Regions from separate parts of the Homo sapiens genome. Here region 2 is linked to region 1. The links come from fine-mapping of genetic effects on gene expression. A gene starts in region 1. The other region holds a variant in brackets. All regions are shown on one strand. Distances are between the middles of the regions.

The links.
Region 2: its variant is fine-mapped to the expression of CACNB2 in skeletal muscle (GTEx, PIP above 0.99). The same link has a PIP of 0.9 or more in thyroid.

What each region holds. Positions count from the first base shown.
Region 1 is chr10:18,138,097-18,142,491 of GRCh38, reverse strand. CACNB2 (calcium voltage-gated channel auxiliary subunit beta 2) reads right to left here and starts at 2,068. Exons shown (of 14, transcript NM_201596.3): 1 at 1,636-2,068. The coding sequence starts at 1,755.
Region 2 is chr10:18,306,630-18,311,024 of GRCh38, reverse strand. The region is part of intron 2 of CACNB2 (calcium voltage-gated channel auxiliary subunit beta 2); the gene reads right to left. Among named protein-coding and RNA genes, the nearest start is that of CACNB2-AS2, 47 kb to the right of the region's middle. The variant C/T (reference allele first, on the strand shown) is at 2,356.

The sequences.
Region 1 (4,395 bases):
GTCTCCGGGTACATTTTTCATTCTGTCTAACCTGGCAAGCATCTAGATAAAAATCAGGAGTCTAGAACAAATGCAAACTCTATTGGTTAAAATTCAGATCCTCTGGCAGAGGCCAGATGGGAATGTAGCTGGTTCATTACATGTCCCTACTCGGCTTGTGAAGCAAACAGCCCAGGGTGGACCAAAATCTAGCTGTTTTACCACTACAAAAGAAATAGATTTCTGATTACACAAGTCCTTGGTGTCCACATTCTTCCCCTTCTCAAGTCAAAGTGAATTATGTGTTTTAAGTTAGCACATTAATTTCCCAATGGTAAAAGAAAGTTCAATAAAGCTAGACTACTATGCCACTTGGAACTGCCATGATTACAATATCAAAATATCTAGAGCACTCATGTTCCACCTATCAAAACAACAGCAAGAAAACATTTGCCACCTTTATTAGCTTGTCACACTCCTGCCCCCACTACTACAGCAAATGATACTCTAACATGCTCTCTAGTGTGTGTATGTGTGTCTACGTATTAATATATAAGTATATATACACACACATATATATCTTACCGCAAATTAAAATCTGGCAAATGTAGGCTTGAAATCAACAAGCCAACACAGTTAAGCAAACAGACATTTCTCCAGAATGCTGCCTGAAATGTAACCAAGACCTCTTCACATCACTGGCCAGCCAACAGCCAGCCCGCAGCTAGGAGTCTGAAGTCATTTCCCTGCCGGGAGAAAAGTTGAGCGACTCCTCATCGCTGAGACCTGGAGGTGTCTGTAACCCAAACTGTACCTGCTGAAGCCTTACGTAAAAACGTAAAAACCACCTTGTCATTGCCCAGCGCCTACAACTGACATCTCCAATTTCACAACAACCTGCAGCGAAGCTGACTTTTTCCAGAAACCGCAAACACTCAACGGAGAGAAAGGGGATCCTGGAGATCCCTGAAATGGCTAACATTTCAGGGGAGACGGAAAAATAAAAACTTTCTTGTCCCCAGCTCACTCGCTTCTTAAGGGAAAGGCATGAGGTGGGACAGGCAAACCTTGGCAAGTGCCCGAGGGGACTGGAGAGCTGTCAGCCCCAGGTGCGCAGCGTGGTCCGGGCAGCTCTGGGGGGATCCGGCAGGGCACCCCCATATTCGCTCCCCTCCTGCCCACCTGCACCCCATCATCCTCACACCCACGCCCACCCCGGCTCGGAGCGTGGCCAGGAGAGTCGGCATCGTAGAAAGCGCTGCGGGAAGCGGGCCCCCTCCCGCCCACCCGGACTCACGATCTTCAGCAGGTCCAGTCCACTCCCCTGATTCATGTCTCTCCATGTGCCTCTCCCGGGAAGGGGCGAGGAGGGCCAGCTGGAGCAACCCGGGAGAAGTCTGGGAGGACTGGCAGGTCTCCCCCGCCCTTCCCCACTGGCTTTTCGGAAGCAGAGAAAAATGGAAGCCGAGGCAGAGCCAGGAAAAGGCGCAAAGGGGCAGGGTCCCCGGCGCCAGGAGAGGAGCAGAGGGTGGGCAGGCGACGAGGGGAGGAGGTGCGAGGCTAGAGATCCCTGCAGTGGAGGCGCCGGGAGAACCCGAGGTCGGTGCCCTGCCCGGCGGCTCACAAAGGAAGGAGAAGGCGCCGCGCTCTCGCTACCTGTGCGGCGGCTCCGAGCGCCCCCGCGGGAGCCACGTTCTCTAGCAGTTCCATCTGGATCTCCTGCGCCACCGCCGCCGCCGCTGTGGGAGGCGACTTGGACATGTCCCTTTGGACCATTGGCGAAAAGTCGGCTCGGAGCGAAGCAGCCAGCCCCCGGCGGCGGGTCCCCTCCTCCTCGCCCCCGCCTCCCCGCGCTCTGATCGGCTCTGGGGGCCGCCCAGGGCTCAGGCCCGGCCGTTCTCGGCGCAGCGCCCCGCAGCGCCCCGGGACTCGGCGCCCTGCTGCCAGGCGCTCAGTGCGCGGGACGGGGCCGGGGCATCGGGCGAAGCGAGCCGCTCGGGAGGCGGGACGCGGGGGCGCGGCTGCGGTGCCTGGGAGAGGGGAGCCCTCAGCGGGGCAGCCGGGGCCGGGAGAGCGGGCGCAGCGCGGCGGGGATCGGAGCCGCGGGCGCCGGGAAAGGTCCTCGCCAGGAGGGGAGGGAACTCCGGGAGCGCGAGCCAGGGGGAGGCGCGTCGGAAAGCGAGAGTGACAAGCAGCCTACAAGCCGAAAAGTTCCTCGCGGGAGGCGCGCGCCGCGTGGGCTCCGACTCAGCCGCTGCGCGTCGCCGTGGCACACAGGCTGAAAAGTTTGCGAAGCCACAGAAGCCAGGCCCGGCGCTCAGGGGGCCTTGATCCTGTTCCCATGGCCCCAGACCACCCCTCAGGAACCCTTAGAGCAGATCTCTTAACTTTGGAGGGGAAGGACGACGGAGGCTGGGTTCCTACACTGAAAGTTTTAAATTTGTAAAGCCTGCTGGCAGCCCGGGAGAGCAAATGTCTGCAAAGAACATCTTCTGGGCAGCTGAAAGCCCTTGCTAATGTCAGTAATAAGGATCCAGAGAAAGAAATGGCATTGATAAAGATCATCAGGTGATCCCACCTGAATCTGCAGCTGGCCTCGTCAACTAGGTGGGAATCCACCCAACCTGAGACCGAATGTTTTGCTTTATGACTGCTGTCTTCATCTTTGCCAAATTAAATTAGCACTTCTTTCCAAACATAATTGAAGTTTGTTGTTGTTGTTGCTTGTTGTTGTTTTAGACGGAGTCTCACTCTGTCGCCCAGGCTGGAGTGCAATGGCGCGATCTCAGCTCACTGCAACCTCCGCCTCCTGGGTTCAAGCGATTCTCTAGCCTCAGCCTCACGAATAGCTGGGATTACAGCCACAGGCCACCAAGCCCAGATAATTTTTGTGTTTTTAGTGCAGACGGGGTTTCACCATGTTGCCCGGGCTGGTCTTGAACTCCTGACCTCAAGTAATCCACCGGCCTCGGCCTCCCAAAGTGCTGGGATCACAGGGGTGGGACACCACGCCAGGCCAGGGTTGAGGTTTTTCTATAGGGGTGAAAAGTCTTAGTGTCACATTTTTGACAAAACAAGCACTTCCTTAAGATCCAGAATTCTTGATAACAGGATAGTGACTATGGTGAGGGTGTTTCACTTACAACATTCCGTTCAGATAGTCCCAAGGAGCCACATTTTTACATGATTGAGTGCAACTTATTTCAACAAATTTTACTACAGTGGAAACTTCTGTAATGAGTTTTCCAGGCATTTTTTTTTTTTTTTTTTTGAGACAGAATTTCACTCTTGTCACCCAGGCAGGAATACAGTGGCACGATCTTGGCTCACTGCAACCTTCGCCTCCTGGGTTCAATCCATTCTCCTGCCTCAGCCTCCCGAGTAGCTGGGATTACAGGTGCACGCCACCACAGCCGGCTAATTTTTTTGTATTTTTAGTAGAGATGGGGTTTCACCACGTTGCCCAGGCTGGTCTCGAACTCCTGACCTCAGGTGATCTGCCCGCCTCTGCCTCCCAAAGTGCTGGGATTACAGATTTGAGCCACTGCATCCAGCCTAATTTTTGTATTTTTTAGTAGAGACAGGGTTTCGCCATGTTGGCCAGGCTGGTCGCAAACTCCTGACCTCATGATCCGCCCACCTTGGCCTCCCAAAGTGCTGGGATTACAGGTGTGAGCCACCGTGCCCATCCAGCTCCAGAAACCTATTTATATGTTATTTTGTAACAACAAACTGAAAGTTTGGTATATTGAAATACACATGCAAAAATTTACTATAATAGGCTTCAACTGCCTTCTATAGTTTACTATGATATATTAAATTACATGAGATACAGTACTTTTCTCCTCAAAGATAAGCATAGACATTTTAAACCTATCATCTCCACCATAGCACTGATTTGCGCCAGGCTTAAAGAATGGGTCTTGATACAGTTAAAGATTTAGCCATAAAGCATCATTGATTTTCCTAAACTTTGGTATTAAAAATGCCACTTTTATGGGCTACGGACACAAATAGAAAATTCTCAAAAGAAGATATACAAATGGCCAACAAACATATGAGAAAATGCTCAACATCAATAATGATCAGGGAAATGCAACTCAAAACCACAAAGTGATACCACCTTACCCCTGTAAGAATGACCATAATCAAAGAATCAAAAAACAGATGTTGGCATGGATGCAGTGATCAGGGAACACTTCTGCACTGCTGGTGGGAATGTAAACTAGTACAGCCACTATGGAAAACAGTGTGGAGATTCCTTAAAGGACTAAAAGTAGAACTACCATTTGATGTAGCAATGCCACTACTGGGTATCTACCCAGAGGAAAAGAAGTCATGATTCAAAAAATATACTTGCACATGCATGTTTACAGCAGCACAATTCACAGTAGCAAAATTGTGGAACCAACCCAA
Region 2 (4,395 bases), 170 kb before region 1:
GATGAGGCAATGAAATGTCCTTGGAAATTAAAATATACTTGCCAGCATAAAAAAATTCAATGGTCAGCATAATTAATAAAATGAATGTATTTGAAGACTAAAGTGGAGGTTTGTAAACCAAAACAGAAAATGAAAGAAAACAGTCCGGGCACAGTGGCTCAGGTCTGTAATACCAGCACTTTGGGAGGACAAGGTGGGTGGATGACTTGAGGTCAGGAGTTCGAGACCACCCTGGCCAATGTGGTGAAACCCCATCTATACTAAAAATACAAAAAAAATTAGCCAGGCATGGTGGCGCATGCCTGTAATCCCAGCTACTAGGGAGGCTGAGGCAGGAGAATTGCTCGAACCCAGTGGGTGGGTTTCTTTTCTTTATAATTTTCTTTTTTTTTTTACTTTTTTTTTTTTTTTTTTTTTTTGAGATGGAGTTTTGCTATTATTGCCCAGGCTGGAGTGCAATGGCATGATCTTGGCTCACCACAAACTCCGCCTCCTGGGTTCAACTGATTCTCCTGCCTCAGCCTCCTGAGTAGCTGGGATTACAGGCATCCACCACCACGCCCAGCTAATTTTGTATTTTTAGTGGAGATGGGGTTTCTCCATGTTGGTCAGGCTGGTCTCGAACTCCCAACCTCAGGTGACCCGCCCACCTCAGCCTCCCAAAGTGTTGGGATTACGGGCGTGAGCCACCACGCCCAGCCTAAAAAATCACTTTTTTAAATTGTATGCTTTCCTTAGTTTATCAACACAGTAAACCTAATTATTACCATCAAAGTAGACTTAATTTTAGAGAGGATAAAAGATGTTAAGAACTACGAAACCCAATCTTAATTGACAAATTTTAGAATTTCAAAGAATGAGTTTTAAAACATTGCTGAAAATACAACAGAAAAATAAACCTGTAGCACGCAAGTTGAAAAAAAAAATCTATTTGAGACCAAATTAAGAAACTGTAACTGAGTATTTACACACAGCTTAGAAACAGCAGCACTGCCATCATTTTTAGTTGGATATATAAATTAAGTCCTCTGATGATATTTCTTCAAATAACTGGTATCAGAAATAACTTTATTCATTTCTAAATGGCAAAATAATGTTAATTTTAAAATTAGTTTTCTATCTCCATTCTAATAATCTTATCAATAGTCTTTTTATTATGTGCAGGTTTGAAAACACACACCTTCCTCATTCTCAGGTGACTGTTTATCCGGACATCTATTCTGAAACAAACAGAAATACACCAGATCAAATAAAACCCACATTTTCTGGGCTGGGCGAGGTGGCTCACACCTGTAATCCCAGCACTTTGGGAGGCTGAGGCGGGTGGATCATAAGGTCAGGAGATTTGAGACCAGCCTGGCCAACATGGTGAAACGCTGTCTCTACTAAAAATACAAAAATTAGCTGGGCATGGTGGCGCGGGACTGTAATCCCAGCTACTTGGGAGGCTGAGTCAGGAGAATCGCTTGAACCCGGGAGGCAGAGGTTGCAGTGAGCCGAGATCGCACCATTGCACTCCAGCCTGGCGACAGAGCGAGGCTCCACTAAACTAAAAAAAGGAAAAAAGAAAAATCCACATTTTCTGAAGAGTCTACCCTGTTGAAGACCTGAACTGCACCATGCAGCCCCGACCCAACCACCTGTGTTCTCATGTGATGTGTACCTCTACTTCCCAGTCAAGCTCCGGCTTCAGTGTAAAAATTCTTGGCAGTCTGGTGCTTATGTAACTGTTGGAGACATTTTTGACTCTATTGGTCTCCCTCTCTGTTTCTGAATTGTCCCCTCTTTCTCCCGTCATAAATACAAGAGTCACTTTTCCTGCTACCTTTAAACATATAAAAAATAAGATAACATATTTAGTCTGAAAATAACCATTCAATATTTTAAAATTTCAGAAACATATCAAATGACAGCTTCACTTTTACTTCATTGTTGACAATATTCATTTTAGTGAAAAAATTGGTAACGACGAGGGGAGAAGGACAGCATCACTTCCGAGGAATAAGTTTTTTTTTTCTATTTTAAGGGCAATTGTGCATTGCTTCCAAACCCAAATGAGAATCAGTGGAAGTTAGTATTCAAATATGACTGCTTTAAAATTGCATTTTTTGCAAGTGCTTCATTTTCTGGCTGACATCAGCAAATACACATCAGTGAGCTGATGACATTTGATACAAAAGGGACAACTTGTTCACCCAAAAAAGTTGTCAAGTCATACCCTTGGCTCATTTTGCCAAGAGCCAAAGGTGTCAGGCATACCGTATGCCTTCTGTAACGTTGCTGGCTCCCATACTTGGCACACTTGGGGTTGTTTTTGGCAGGCTGATGCGTATCCAACCTACAATTCATTCTGAC[C/T]CCAAGAGCCAGATCTCATGAAAGTGACCTTGTGGGGAAGCTGAGTGGTAACCCAAGAAATCACTGTGAGTGCTTTTACAGCATTGCCATTTTAAAATATACTTGCCATTTTACAATGATCTTTCAAGAAATGTGAAGAATAGAAAATTTTGCTGTAGGACACTACAATGGGAACACAGACACCAGGGTCCCCTGGAGAGCGGAGGGCGGGAGGAGAGTGAGGATTGAAAAATCGCCTAGAGGGCACTATGCTTATTACGTGGATGACGGAAATAATCTGTACATCTAATCCCTGTGATAGCAATCCTTCCCTATACAGCAAACCTGCACATGTACCCCTGAACGTGAACATTTTTAAAAAGAAAATGTTGGTAAAGCTTGGGCGTGGTGGTTCACGCCTATAATCCCAGCAATTTGGGAGGCCAAGGCAGGCGGATCACTTCAGGCCAGGAGTTCGAGACTAGCCTGGCCAACATGGCGAAACCCGGACTCTACCAAAAATACAAAAATTAGCCTGGCATGGTGGCGGGTGCCTGTAATCGTAGCTGCTCAGGAGGCTGAGATAGGAGAATCGCTTGAACCTGGGAGGTGGAGGTTGCAGTGAGCCAAGATCACACCACTGTACTCCAGCCCAGGGTGACGGAGCAAGACTCTACCTCAAAAAAAAAAAAAAAAAAAAAAAAAAAGTTGGCATATATTATTTTAGACTTAAGTTATCCTACCTTTTAATTTCTCTGACTGAAGCAGTGTAATACACACATGCTACTCGCAGAAAAATGAAAGCACCTTCTTCTTTCTTGCCTTCTGCAGGGTAAGCAAATGTTTGAATTAATTATATTTCTTTCATTATCATTGATTTGAACATTTTTATGTTTTTCTATTTTTATTAAGAGATAAGCTCCTTTGTTCCATTGCCAGAACATTTCCTATTTATTTTATTCAGTGACCTCACATCTTTTTAAGTCTGTGGCATCAAATTATATGTTCACTTTCCCATCCTTGGTTCTGTCTTTTAATTCATGCAACAAATATTTATTGGACATGTCTCCTTTATAAGCCATCACTGTGCTGGGAACTTGGTATGAACAAAATAGATAAAATATAGTCTGCCTTCAATTTAGTAGGGAAGTGGGGATTAAAAAACAAACAATTGTTACATATAATAAATGCCATGAAGGAAAAAGCATCGCATTTATATTTATTTATGTGAGACAGAGTCCTGCTCTGTTGCCCAGGTTGGAGTGCAGTGGTGCAATCTCGGCTCGCCACAACCTCCACCTTTCAGGTTCAAGTGATTCTCCTGCCTCAGCCTCCCGAGTAGCTGGGACTACAGGCGTGTGCCACCACGCCTGGCTAATGTTGGTATTTTTAGTAGAGACAGGGTTTCACTAAGTTGACTAGGCTGGTCTCAAACTTCAGGCCTCGTGATCTGCCCGCCATGGCCTCCCAAAGTGCTGGAATTACAAGCGGGAGCCACGTGACCGGCCCTAAAAGAATGGCATTTATTTACCAACTTTTGAGGTATTCCTCTGGTTTTTTAAACACGATTTCACCTAGCTTATTTTTTTTTTCTCCACCATTTTCTCTGCCATAATCAGGATGTGAAATACAAAATCCTGCCTTTACCCTTGGACCTTGTCTTTCCTCTTCTAGAGGAACTTTCACTTCCTAACCAGGAACTGACAGACATCATCCTTACCGCCTCTTGCCTTTAACCCATATTATTTTAACCCAAGGACCTCAAATCTAGACACTTTTCTCAGATCACAACCTTTTATATTTTCACCCTATCTGCTGCTTCTTTTAAAATAAACCTACACTTAGCTTTTCCCATGATCTCTAACCCTCTGCAGTGTCTTCAGTCCATTAACCTCCCGGAATCACCTGCTTTTCTCCCTGGCTGACTTCCCAAGGACTAGAACTTCAACAGCTCAGTCTTTGGCAACAAAGAAGCCCTCACTCCTTAACTATCTTTGGCTCCTAGCTACTAACCCTGAAAAGCATGTTAGACATTTTCTCTGGGGTTACTGCAAATTGCTG